4 separate regions of the Homo sapiens genome follow, and all the other regions are reported to be linked to region 3. The links are microRNA targets in miRTarBase. Many come from high-throughput screens and were not tested one by one. Region 3 holds a microRNA gene; each other region holds the end of a gene's coding sequence. Distances are from middle to middle.

Region 1 (3,252 bases), 32 Mb from region 3:
ATTTATGTGATTTGCAAACTGGGAAATGACTCACAGAAAGCCGTGAAGATCCTCCAGTCCTTATCAGCAGCTCAAGAGTTAGACCCTTTAACAGTTCGGGATGTTGTGGGGGGCCTCATGGCCTGGGCTGCCAAAATCGATGGAACATTTCCACAGTACTGAGGTGACTGGTATAGTCTGATGAGAAAGATGTGGATTGCCATAATACCTCAAAGATACACTTGTTTGCATTTTTCGGTAATATACATAGGAGCTGGGGATTCTACAGTATCTGTGAATACGTGGACTCCTTTTTATAAGGAGTTTTAAAAATTGTTATGTATTGGATGAATGACTTATTAATGGATTATACCGTTTCTGAGAACCATCATTTTTTTTTTCAGCACACGGAGGATGTCTTGGACATGTGAGATGTAACGTGACAGGATTTTGCATTTTAAACTGCAGATCATTTACATGTCCTTATTTTCCACCTCCCCCAGTCAAAATGCTTTCTAAATCATTTTCACAGATTATATACTTCGGATCTGTTTACTGTTCAGTTAAGAAATTCTTGGATCTTATTAATATTTCAGATGATAGAATACATCCTACAGAAATACATGTTTAAAATGTAAATTGTTTTAATTATTCAGAAAGAGGGTCATTCTATTTGGCCTTTTGAATTAGTATCAAAATGAGATTTTTTTTTTTTTTTTGAGATGGAATCTCTCTCTGTTGCCCAGGCTGGAGTGTAGTGGTGCGATCTCAGCTCACTGCAACCTCCGCCTCCCAGGTTCAAGCGATTCTCCTGCCTCAGCCTCCTGAGTAGCTGGGATTACAGGCGCACGCCACCACGCCTGGCTAATTTTTGTATTTTTAGTACAGAGGGGGTTTCACCATGTTTGTCAGGCTGGTCTCGAACTCCTGACCTCGTGATCCGCCTGCCTCGACTTCCCAGAGTGCTGGGATTACAGGCGTGAGCCACCACACCCTCCCGAGATCTTTAAAGTTTACCAAAATAAAGGAAACCACCTTTGTAGTCTGTCAGTGTCTCTTATAAATTGCTACTGTTTTCTTAAAGTTAACTTCAGGGTCCACCTTATGTTGCACACATATCACATCGTTTAAATTGCATACTATGGTTTGACTTGCTTTGGAATTTTCAAGTCAAAGTCCCAACCCTTTGCCTCTCCCCCTTTAATTTGCCTTTTCTCTTTTGATTTAATGTTTTTTTATTCCAGCATTTTATACTAATGTAAAATGTTTTTATGTTTGTTTACTTAACATTTTCATAAAATAGTAGGTAGTCTCACCAACTTCCAATATATACAACAACATTATAAGTAAAAATTTGATTTGTGAGTGCCTATCAGTGGCCAGATGAACTAATGGCTTGTCAGAAGGGGGCCTGTGACCTCCTGCTTGCTGCATGCAGGCTTATAATCATCAATTGCTGCTGTTGTTTTTTTAAGAATGGCAGAAATCACAGATACAACTATAAAATCTTTGTATTTCTGTTAACCATTTTTTTTAAAGCTTAAATGTATCATAAGCCAGCAAAAACCCTTTGTAGACCAGATTTACTTACCAGTTTGCAATTTGTGATATAGAATCTTGTTTTATTATAAGAGGGTGGTATTTAACAAATTCAAAATTAGTCATCACTTTTTAACTGTGAAACATTGTAACTAATTCTTTGAACAGGTATACTTAAAGTATGGTATACCCTTCTGTTATAAAGATGAAGCAGGTCTCTTATGACTGTTCCTGCCAACGAGTTATGGAGGTAAATGACTGTGACCTGGAGTGGAGAACAAAGATGGCTGGCCTGTGTTTTTCATCTCCTTCTTCCAGGGACAACTGATTCTGATACATAGCAGGAAACAAATAGCGACACACAGGAACAATTTCATATTCTAAAGACTGAAGTCCTAAAGTTATAGACAGTTGTAGTTCCTATAAACCTGGTTGTCACAGGGGACAGGCAAGAGAAGCTGACTAGCTAAGTGTTAAAAGGTTTACTAAAGTGATAGGAGGTGCTTTTGAGAATTTTGGGGACAGATTCAAGGCTGTACTTCTAGGAATGATGCCCGAAATCATGCACAAAACTGGCCTTAGGAGAACAGTGTCTATGTTGTGCTGCCCTATCAAGTACCGGAGGAAACGCCACTACAGTCTCACCAGTTTCACTTGACGTGCCCCCCCAACTCTCCCAGAAAGCCCAACACTTCAGCCACAGTCCATGTGTCGAGAAACAGAGTCACTACATTATTCTTTTCTGAGTCAAGCCTTATGAGGGTGCCTGGTAGGCAGAGTCTAATTACATGCCTACATCTTAGCTGCAAGAGAGGCTGGGAATTTGTGTTTTGATATCTACAATAGGAAGACAGAACTCATGATGTGGGATTTTCCCAAATAGTGAAATATTTTTCAAAAGATGGGCTGTTAAGAATATAACAGATACCCAGTACACAACCCAGATCTATTTCAGTATTTGTTTTTTGTTGTTGTTGTTTTGGAGACAGAGTCTCGCTCTATCCCCCAGGCTGGATGGAGTGCAGCGGCACAATCTCGGCTCACTGCAACCTCCACCTCCCATGTTCAAGTGATTCTCATGCCTCAGCCTCCTGAGTAGCTGGGATTACAGGCACCTGCCACCACATCTGGCTAATTTTTCTATTTTTAGTAGCGATGGGGTTTCGCCATGTTGGCCTGGCTGGTCTTGAACTCCTGACCTCAGGTGATCTGTGCACCTCAGCCTCCCAAAGTGCTAGGATTACAGGCATGAGTCACTGCACCTGGCATATATTAGTATTTGAAATTTGGTTTTCTCTGGGGATTGTAGCTAGGTTTTTATGGTGAGATAGGATTTGAACATAATTTGTTTTTTGAGACGAAGTCTTGCTTCGTCGCCCAGGGTGGAGTGTAGTGTTGTGATCACAGCTCGCTGTGGCCTCAACCTCCTGGGTTCAAGTGATCCTCCCACCTCAGCCTCTCAAGTAGCTTGAATTACAGTTGTATGCCACCATGCCTAGCCATTTTTTAATTTAAAAATTTTTTGGTAGCAATGGGGTCTGAATATGTGGCCTAGGCTGATCTCAAACTCCTGGGCTCAAGCATCCCTCCTGCCTCAGCCTCCCAAAGTGCTTGGGATTACGGGTATGAGGCACCATGCCCAGCCTGAACTTGATTTTTTTGTTGTTTCCTTTTCATAACAAACATCAAATGCCTTCAGTGTACTAGTTCTTCTAGGTTCTGGAATAAAAATGA
Region 2 (3,000 bases), not on the chromosome of region 3:
TCAGCTGAGTTTTTGGAAGACATATGCACAAAAGGAGAAGGAGCAGTTGGAAAATACATTTCTGGACTATGCCAACAAGCTGAGCGAGAGGAACCTGAAATGTTTTTTTGAAAACAAGAGGCCAGATCCTTTTCCCATGCCTACGTTTGCTGCCTGGGAGGCTGCTTCAGAGCTGCATTCTTTCCACCAAAGCCAGCAACACTATAGCACCCTCCACAGAGTGGTGGACAATGGTCTGCAACTTAGCCCTGAGGATGATGAGACGACAATGGTCCTTGTGGGTACTGCCCACAATATGTAGCTCATCCACCATCAATGACTCATGGTGTTGAGTGGCATGCTCATTCTGTGATCCTCCTAACGTATCACCAGCAACCTGTGTGTCTCTGTATTTTCTTACATTTGGAGTATGTTTACAAGACAATAACACAAAGGAAACTGCTTTGAAGCTCTCAAGTGGAACATCAGGATGTGCTCAAATTGATGCTGAGGGGTGACAAAGGTGCTCTTGCATTGGTGGAGAGGGGCTCAGTAGGCCTAAATGTTGCTCCAAGATCTAAGATTTTATCATTCAACAGACAGACTCATGTGAGAGGGCTCATCAGTCTCTGTAAATATTGGTTGCAGAATTTAGGGGCAGAAGCAATGGCTTGTGAGTGAGCAAGTTACTCTTAACATAGGTTGCCCTACACAGTGGCTCCTGCAGTGTGATCAGCAGGAGTCTCTGTCCTACAAATCTACACTTTTAAGGATGTATGAAATTGTGGAATTCATTCCCTCAGGATCTGAAGATCTCAGTTCTCAAAAATCACAAGTTGCAAGAATATGATACCTAAAATTGAAAGTTTTTCACATGTTTTCACTGTATACTGAAAATACTCCCCTGGAAGCAGGGCTGCATCATAATTTTTGTGGGCTTTATGTACTTTTGCCTTTGCGAACCATTTCCTACATTCAAAATAGTAGTAACAAATATATATATATATATATATATATATATATATATATATATATATATATACACACACACAGAAATATATATTTATAACTGCATTGATAAAAGGTGAATATATTAGCATTTTCTTCAACCTAAAAGTTTATGTATTTTCTTCTGATTTTAAAAGAAATTAAAAACATTTTAGTGGGCCCTTACAAGTATTATGGTCCTTAGGCACAGTGCTTACTAGGCCGTGGGTATGTCTTAGTGCGTTTGGGCTACTATAACAAAATATCATAGATAGGTGGCTTATACAAAATAGAAATTTATTTCTCACAGTTCTGGAGGCTGGGAAGTCCGAGGTCAGGCTGCCAGCATGCTCAGGTTCTGGTGAGAGCAATTTTCCAGGTTGCAAACTGCTTGCTGACTTCTCAGTGTCCTTCCATGGTGGAAAGTGCAAATAAGCTCCCTTGAGCATTTTTATAAGGCACTAATCCCATTCCTGGAGGCTCCACCTTCATGACCCAATTACTTCTCAAGGCTCTGCTTCTTAGTACTATCAGCTTGGGGGTTAAGATTTCAACATATGAAATTGGGGGAGACACAAACATTCAGACTATAGTAGGGTAAATTGACCTTGGCTAAAGGTCTGGGGACACTGTCCAAAGCAGTACTGGCATAAAACTGCATTGCAGTCTTACATTTATCAGAAATAATGCAAATCTTGCATTCTACAATGTACTATATCCATGTTAGTATGTACATATATATGTGTATGTATATATGTACATAAATTCTCCTTAAATCTCTGAGAAGAATTGTGCTTTAAAAAAGAACTATGTTTTGTGCTGTGGCTCATACCTTACAGTGGTAGTCTATGTCTCTTAGTTTGAGAAAGCTGAATATTAACTTCTTATTAACATGAAACATGATGGCAAACTGAATCCTACAAGTATAGGACCCAGAACATATCTATGTTATTGTCATTTACAAGAAGAAATATGTATTTGGTCTTTCTTCCTATTCCTGGTGCAGAGCTCCTAAAACCTTTGGGACCTCCCAAGTGATGTGTCTGGTAGTACGCGAATGAGATGACTGATAGTTAGGGGCTTCTGAATGGCCTCAGAATAGGGTCTGGTTGCCACGGGAACCAACCATGTGTTTAGAGGGTTGGAACTTTCAGCCCCACTCCCAGACCTTGGGGAAGGAAGAGGGGCTGAAGGTTGAGTCGATCACAAATGGATAATGATTTAATCAATCATGCCTAAGAATAAAGCTTCCCATAAAAATCTAAAGGACAAGGTTCAGAGAGCTTCTGCATTGCTCAATACATGAGGAGTGGTGAGCCCAAAGGGGCCGTGGAAGCTCCGTGCCCCTTCCCCCAAACCTGTTCCTGTGCCTCCATCTGGCTGTTTCTGAGTTATATTATTTTATAATAGACTGATGATAGTAAATAAAGCCCTTTCCTGAGTTCTGTGAGCTACTCTAGCAAATGGTGAAATCTGAGAAGGAAATCATGGGAACCTCTGCTTTGTAGCCACGTCAGATAGAAGATGTGAGTAACTTTGGAACCTACTGCTTGTGACTGGTGTCTGAAGTTGGGGGAGATCTTATGGGACTGAGCTCTTAACCTGCTGGGGATCTGCACTTAATGCCGATTAATGCCAGAATTGAATTGTATGATATCCAGTTGGTATTGGAGAATTGGCCAGTGTGGGAGAAAACCCACACAGTTGGTGGCAAGGAGTGTTCAGTGTTGAGTGTGAATGTCAATAAAAAAAGGTTTGTTTTTTCTACGTACAATATCTTTGGGAACTTGGAGGTGCAGGGTCAGACGTCTGTGTGTGTATGTGGCAGGGACAGAACAGGGATTAGGGATGTGAGGGGGTAGAGTTTTCAGAATAAAGGGAGAGAAAATTCAGCAAAGAGTTCTCCTTCTTAATCTTTCTTGACTTAAAGTTTGTCTGCCCTTAAGTGTCTTCTGAGCTGGAAAAAGACATATAGGAACTGGCCGATGCCGATGCCTCTTTTGCAGTGTGTGAGAGGCTGAAACAGAAGTTCTA
Region 3 (3,257 bases):
TATGGTGAATTGTCATAACAAATTTTGGCTTCCTACCAGAAACATCTGCATTTGCCTCCTGCTTGCAGATTTATGGCTTAACTTTGTCATGCTTATTACACCCGAGAAAACTGAAGTCTCAGCTTTAATATTTTTTCTGTGATTTCATTAGACTTTTGCTCTAATTTAAAGTTCTTATTAGTGAGGAAAAGAAATATTCTTAAATAACAATAATACTGTAAACATGTATTTAGAAATCATCTTCTTCAATTTCTAACATGCTTTGATCCAAAACCATCACAGAAACCCAGATTGTCTGCCAAATGTGAAAAAGGCACAGTTTCAAACTATTCTACTTGTATTTTTACCCCCACTGTCTCTTGAAACAGGTAACCATGAAGGATAACATTAATACCTTTGTTTCTAGGATTATAGAATTATGTCACCAGTTCCCTCATGGAATCACAGACCAAGTAATTCAGAATGAAATGCCTCATATAGAAGCCCAGCAGCGGGCAGTAGCCATCAATAGGTTGTTGTCTATGGTAAGGTGAATCTAACTATTTTGCATAATTACTGATATGCTGATTATCACTGGTTTTTATTATGTAGTTGTGATGGTTAATTTCATGTCAACTTGACTAAGATACAGGATTCCTACATATCTAGTTAAATATTTTATTGGAGTGTCTGTGTGGGTGTTTCTGAAAGAGGTTAGCATTTTGAATTGGTGAACGGAGTAAAGTAGATATGGGTCCAGTTGGGTGAGCATCATCCAATCCATTCAGGGCCTAAATAGAACAAAGTGGCAGAGGAAGATTGAATTCACTCTTTGAATTCAATCTTGAGCTGGGCTATGAATCTTGTGCCCTCAGCACTCCTGGTTCTCAGACCTTCAGACTTGGACTGGTATCTACACCATCAGCTCTCTGCTCTCAGCCCTTTGATCTGCAACACCAGCTTTCCTGGGTCTCCAGCTTGCAGAGGGCAGATGATGGGACTCCTCAGCCTCCATAATCACAGAGCAAATAGCTTCTGATGAATCTTTCAAGAGGGAGGTGTATCCTATTGGTTCTTTTTCTCTGGAGAACCCTAATACAGCAGTCATAAAACGAGAAAGTGTGTTAGGTTTGACTGATAAGACTCTAAACCAGGAAACAGCTCAAACTACCTGAATTGAAAAAAGAAGAAATAATTATGCGTTATAAGACAAATGAAATAAATGTATTATGGTATAACTGTTGTATTTATTAATTGCCACTGCCATACATAGGTCTAGTCTGTTCTCACCTTCTGTTTGCTTCCTACTGCTGGTGTTGGGCCATTTCCCATAAAATATTCCACCCCCCGATTTTCCTATGAGTTGTCACAGAGCCCAGTCATCAGGGTTTCATTCTCCACATTGTCACTCTGAGCATTTCAGGAAGCAAGAATGAGTCCAGTTGAATGAAGAATGTTGGGCTTTGGGGAGGAAGTGCAGCCTTAGCCCCCAGTGACATTGCAATGGAATTTATCAGTGAAGCCATTCTCCATCTGTCCAGAAACAAACAAGCAAGACTGTCTAAAAACCCACCAAGTGGTGCCGATGCTCTAAATCTCCCTTACTTTCCCTCATCACCAAAACATCCTTTTCCTAAGAGCATTTCAGTTTGGCTTTAGTAGCAGTTAGGTTAAAGAGTTCTACGCCAAGGCCTCATCTGAATGACTGATTTGTTTTTTAAGTCTACTAGCCTTGTTGGATTTCCAAGGGCTCTGGATGTGGAGATTTGGGGTCCGATGAATCTTTTCTTAAACCTTTCCCATCAATTTTCTAGCTCAGGAGTTGGCAAACTTTTTCTATAAAGTGCCAGACAGTATATGTTTTAGGCTTTGTGAGCCATATGATTTCTGTCACAACTACACTGTCATTTTAGCAAGAAGCAGCCATGGATGATGATACATAAACAAATGGCTACAGCCATGTTCCAACAAAACTTTGGTTATAAAAACAAGCTGTGGAGCAGATTGCTCACCCCTGTTCTAGCCCAAGGACAAAGGAATGTTGCTGATTTCTAGTTATTTCACTGTGGTGAAGGTCTTCAGCTCTAGGAAAGACAGAGGAAGGGATTCTGGGAGGTTGTAGCAGTGGAAAAAGTTCTTTTCTTCCTCTGATCGCCCTCTCAGCTCTTTCCTTCTGACTGAAAATCATCTTCAGCACCTCTCTTTTACCACCTCTGCCACCACCCACCCACTGCGAGTCCTATTGGCTATAGGTTGTATGCAGGCAGTAGTAGAGCTATCAAAGGATATTAAGAAAGGGAGTGATTATTAATAAATCATGTAATGTTTCTGATTTTAGCTCTTAAAAACAGTTCTTAAATTTGCTGTCCACACCCCCTCCATTTCTATCCCTGGTACTGCATCATGTTCAGGCTCATGGCTTTTACCTGGACAGCTGCAGTAGCATCTTAACTGGTTTCCATGACTCCATCTGTCTCAGAGAAGCCAGCCTGATTTGGGATTACAGTCATGAGCCACCGAGCCTGGCCCCTGATCTGTCTTAAATGCAGGTCTGACCAAGGCACTCTACCACCTACAATTTGTTTATACTGGAGATTCAAGTTCAAACTCCTGGGTTTCCCACACTGAGTCCCTGCATTGTTCACCAGCCTCATCTCCACCACTCTACTTCAAAAGTTAGGTTTCAGGAGGAGCAGATTGTTTTTGGTTTCTGGCCACATCATGCTGTTTCGTGCCACAGGACTCATGTTGTTCCCCTGCTTAGAAGGTTCTTCTTATTCTTTACAGATGACTAACGCATTAGGACTCAACTCTGCCATTGTCTCCAGGAAGTCACTGAACCCCCCCAGGTTGGGCCGCAGCCTGTTCTCCGAGTACCCAATCTGGGAGTTCAGGGTGGCTTTACTTACCTCTATCTTAATGCCAACCAGATGGGTATTGAAGTCACCTGTGTGTTTCCCTTTTAGAATTAATGTTGTTCCCCCAAACACCTATCATAACACCTGGCACAGTACAAGTATTCAGTAAATATTCATAAGCTGGATAAATGACCAGAGCCTCTGGATTGGGCCTTGTAGTCCTACTTTGCCACTTCGTGGGGTCAGGGAACAGGAGTGTGTCACTGTTCATTCAGTATGTAAATCCATTTCCAAGTCATGAGTGTCTGTTTTAAAACAAGGGAATGGGCTGGGCACAGTGGCTCCTGCCAGTAATCCCAGCACTTTGGGAGGCCGAGGTAGGCGGATCACTAGAGGCCAGGAGTTCAAGATCAGCCTGGC
Region 4 (3,000 bases), not on the chromosome of region 3:
TCTCCACTAAAACGCCTGCTTTTCTTAACTCCACACCGAACCAACCTGAAATATTTTGGCCCAGAATGCCAACAAGAATTGAAGAAAAGATGCTTTACAAAAATAACAATATAAAAGCAAATTATATTATCCCTTTTATCTCCATTCTTACATTAAAAAAAAAAAAAAAAATCGGCCGGACGTGGTGGCTCACGCCTGTAATCCCAGCACTTTGGGAAGCCAAGGCGGGCAGATCACGAGGTCAGGAGATCGAGACCATCCTGGCTAACACAGTGAAACCCCATCTCTACTAAAAAAAAAAAAAAAAAAAAATTAGCCGGGCATGGTGGCGGGCACCTGTAGTCCCAGCTGCTTGGGAGGCTGAGGCAGGAGAATGGTGTGAACCTGGGAGATGGAGCTTGCAGTGAACCAAGATAGCACCACTGCACTCCAGCATGGGCGACAGAGCGAGACTCCGTCTCAAAAAAAAAAAAAAATCTCCCCCAAATACCAGTTGCAAAGTCCTTGAAAACAAAGGGAGTACAATAGCAGTATGATTTAGGGCACACTGGACAGTATGGGTCACTAGCAAAATTATTATACTTATAGGGAGTAATAATCCCAAATTGTGTTCATGGCCCTTCAAATCCTTTAGCAACAGATTTTCTCCCAAAATCAATGGACTTCATAATTATAGATTCCCAAACCTGCTATCTCTTCTTCCTACTCAAATTATATTTGCTCCAGTGTTAAACTAAATACTGCTAATTTGTCAGCTTATCCCAATGTAGGACAGCCAAAATAACTGTAAGGAGAGCTATCTTTGCAGCCATCTCACTTTTCACATTACTTTATCCCTCCATGGTTAACTGACATTTTGATATTGATAATTCAAGCCAAGGCTACCTGCCTTGTAGACTAAGGGGGCTACTTTGACAACAGAGTTCAACAGTATTGTAGACAGCTAACACCTGTCCTTGAAGAGAAGTGAAAGAAAAAGCTAACAACATTCCGCAGTCTGAAAATATCTTAACAAATTAGTTTCTACTTTCTCATTTCTAAAAGCTTGAATCTATCATCTAGTTAACATAAGGGATGATTAAACACTGAATGTTCCTCTCAAAGGTAACCATTTTGCTTTCTTAGAAGGAGGTAGCTATCAAACCAAAAAACTGGCAGCATTTGGCATTCTTGACATTTTAATTAGAGCAGAAATAAACTACTAAATATTTTATTTCTAAGCAAAACAGAGCTCCAGCATAAATCCTGTTTGTCTGAGAAATTCACAATACATTTTAGAAATCCAATGGATACATTCAAAATGTTATCTAATAAATAACAAGGTCAGGTCTACTCCAAATCTAAGAATCTGATTTAAACATAAGGTGCCAAAAAACTACCAGGGCTTTTTTTTTTTGGTGGTTATAAACAATACTTGATATTTAAGCAACACAGTCACACTGCTTTAAACTTAGTTGCAGAGATCTACAATTTATTATTATTTTCAGTGTTAGAGCTAGAGGGTAATTTTTTCAAAGATGGCACTCAACTCCACTTATTTACCTGTCAACAAATACAGAACTGAACTGTTAGCCATAAGCACTTTACAAACAGACTCAGGAAACTATGCAGTAGACAATGACATAGCTTAACCAGACTCTGAAAAAGAGATACATATTTTGATTCACACTTGTACAAAGAGAACAGTCATGTCTGCATGACTTAAGGTTCCCTAAACACAACTGTTTTATGTTTTAGACCCCTGGAGTGTGCCAGTTTACCACATCAGGGAGGAATCAAGGGATGTGTGTGCTCCTTCTAAAGAACCAAGGGCAAGTGGGGTGGGGGTGGCTACAGGGAACGCTCTGGGCAAAAGAGCTGCCTCAGGTTTTTGTGGGAATGAAAATTACTTGTTGCAGTTAAGCAATTCCTAGGGTTTATCTAGTTTGAGGTTCAAAACAAAGGAGAGAATTATTTCCTTCCTCGAGCTCTTCCCAAAGCAATATGCACATCTCATAATCAAATCTCAAGTAGTACAAAGAGATAATCAATTATCTAAAAATTTAATTTACATACATGTTGGCCTGGATTAAAAACAAAAAAGTTAGTTTCCATAAATAGCAGACTTTAGTGCTGTATGACCCAATGACTAAAAATAAAACCAGGAAGTTTTTACTAAAAGCTCAAGGATAAAAATGAACACTGGCTGGCTATTGAACTCCACATCTGACAATAATTACTGACAGTTTAAAAATGTATATCCAAAATATAACCTCAAGAGGACCAGGTTTATTTGTCCGACAGAGCAGCTCAAAATGTTGAGGCATCATTTGTTTGGATTATGATGGGTTATTCTCGAAGTTTATTTATTTAGAAGGGGAAAGTGATTATAGAAAAATACTTGAAATAATTTGCCAATGAAGTTGCAGATTCTAACAATAATCCACATCTTAGATTTTTAAGTGTGTAGTTTCATAGTTTAAACAAATTCTGTCAAAGAACTATTCAATATACTTTATCACTTTAACTTTCCATGAAAACCAAATAAAAATCACATCCGAATGATTTACTTCTATGCTTTTATCTGATTGTATACATATGATGTACTACGCATCCAAGTACAAGAGGCAGTTATCTTCTCTGAGAGGTGCAAGAGTTGTTCTTTCATGAATGCCCTCTAATAGTGAAACCAGCAATTTTTATATATGCATTCATGTGCATATACATGTACTTCAAAAAGCAAAGCGTCATCTCTTCGTCCATTGTTAACTTAATGGTAAGACTGCAATAGAAAAAAGAAAAAGTCAACTTCTAGATTTTGCAAATGGAGTTTATTAACTCCTTACTGTGGCTTAAAGTAAATTTATTGCTTAATAAATCCAAACAGCAAGTCACATCATTTACTCTGGCATACACTTTGCAAAACAAATATTTTTAGATAATATATATAGCAAGAAAGAAATTACACTAATGCAAGGAGGAAGTTTTAGGGGTACTTTAAAGATTTCTTTTCCTTTATAG

Evidence for each region. The annotated mature microRNA hsa-miR-3192-5p reads UCUGGGAGGUUGUAGCAGUGGAA and lies in region 3 at 2,087-2,109, shown strand. An mRNA with a match to its seed (bases 2 to 7 or 8) in the 3' UTR can be bound and repressed. Matches are read on the target gene's strand: a 7mer-m8 pairs with bases 2 to 8, a 7mer-A1 pairs with bases 2 to 7 and ends in A, and an 8mer does both.
Region 1: the mRNA of MOCS3 is a reported target of hsa-miR-3192-5p. Seed matches in the 3' UTR shown: 7mer-m8 at 769-775, 7mer-A1 at 935-941 and 8mer at 2,192-2,199.
Region 2: the mRNA of CALHM5 is a reported target of hsa-miR-3192-5p. Seed matches in the 3' UTR shown: 8mer at 2,126-2,133.
Region 4: the mRNA of MAPK1IP1L is a reported target of hsa-miR-3192-5p. Seed matches in the 3' UTR shown: 7mer-m8 at 385-391.

The regions. Positions count from the first base shown.
Region 1 is chr20:50,960,064-50,963,315 of GRCh38, forward strand. MOCS3 (molybdenum cofactor synthesis 3) reads left to right here. Exons shown (of 1, transcript NM_014484.5): 1 at 1-3,252. The coding sequence ends at 162. Among named protein-coding and RNA genes, the nearest start is that of MOCS3, 2.9 kb to the left of the region's middle.
Region 2 is chr6:116,515,689-116,518,688 of GRCh38, forward strand. It overlaps CALHM5 (calcium homeostasis modulator family member 5), which reads left to right. Exons shown (of 2, transcript NM_153711.5): 2 at 1-3,000. The coding sequence ends at 301. The region is part of intron 3 of TRAPPC3L (trafficking protein particle complex subunit 3L); the gene reads right to left. Among named protein-coding and RNA genes, the nearest start is that of CALHM5, 5.6 kb to the left of the region's middle.
Region 3 is chr20:18,468,538-18,471,794 of GRCh38, forward strand. It overlaps MIR3192 (microRNA 3192), which reads left to right and starts at 2,078; the gene lies at 2,078-2,154. POLR3F (RNA polymerase III subunit F) reads left to right here. Exons shown (of 9, transcript NM_006466.4): 2 at 407-524.
Region 4 is chr14:55,064,377-55,067,376 of GRCh38, reverse strand. MAPK1IP1L (mitogen-activated protein kinase 1 interacting protein 1 like) reads right to left here. Exons shown (of 4, transcript NM_144578.4): 4 at 1-2,761. The coding sequence ends at 2,750. Among named protein-coding and RNA genes, the nearest start is that of MAPK1IP1L, 14 kb to the right of the region's middle.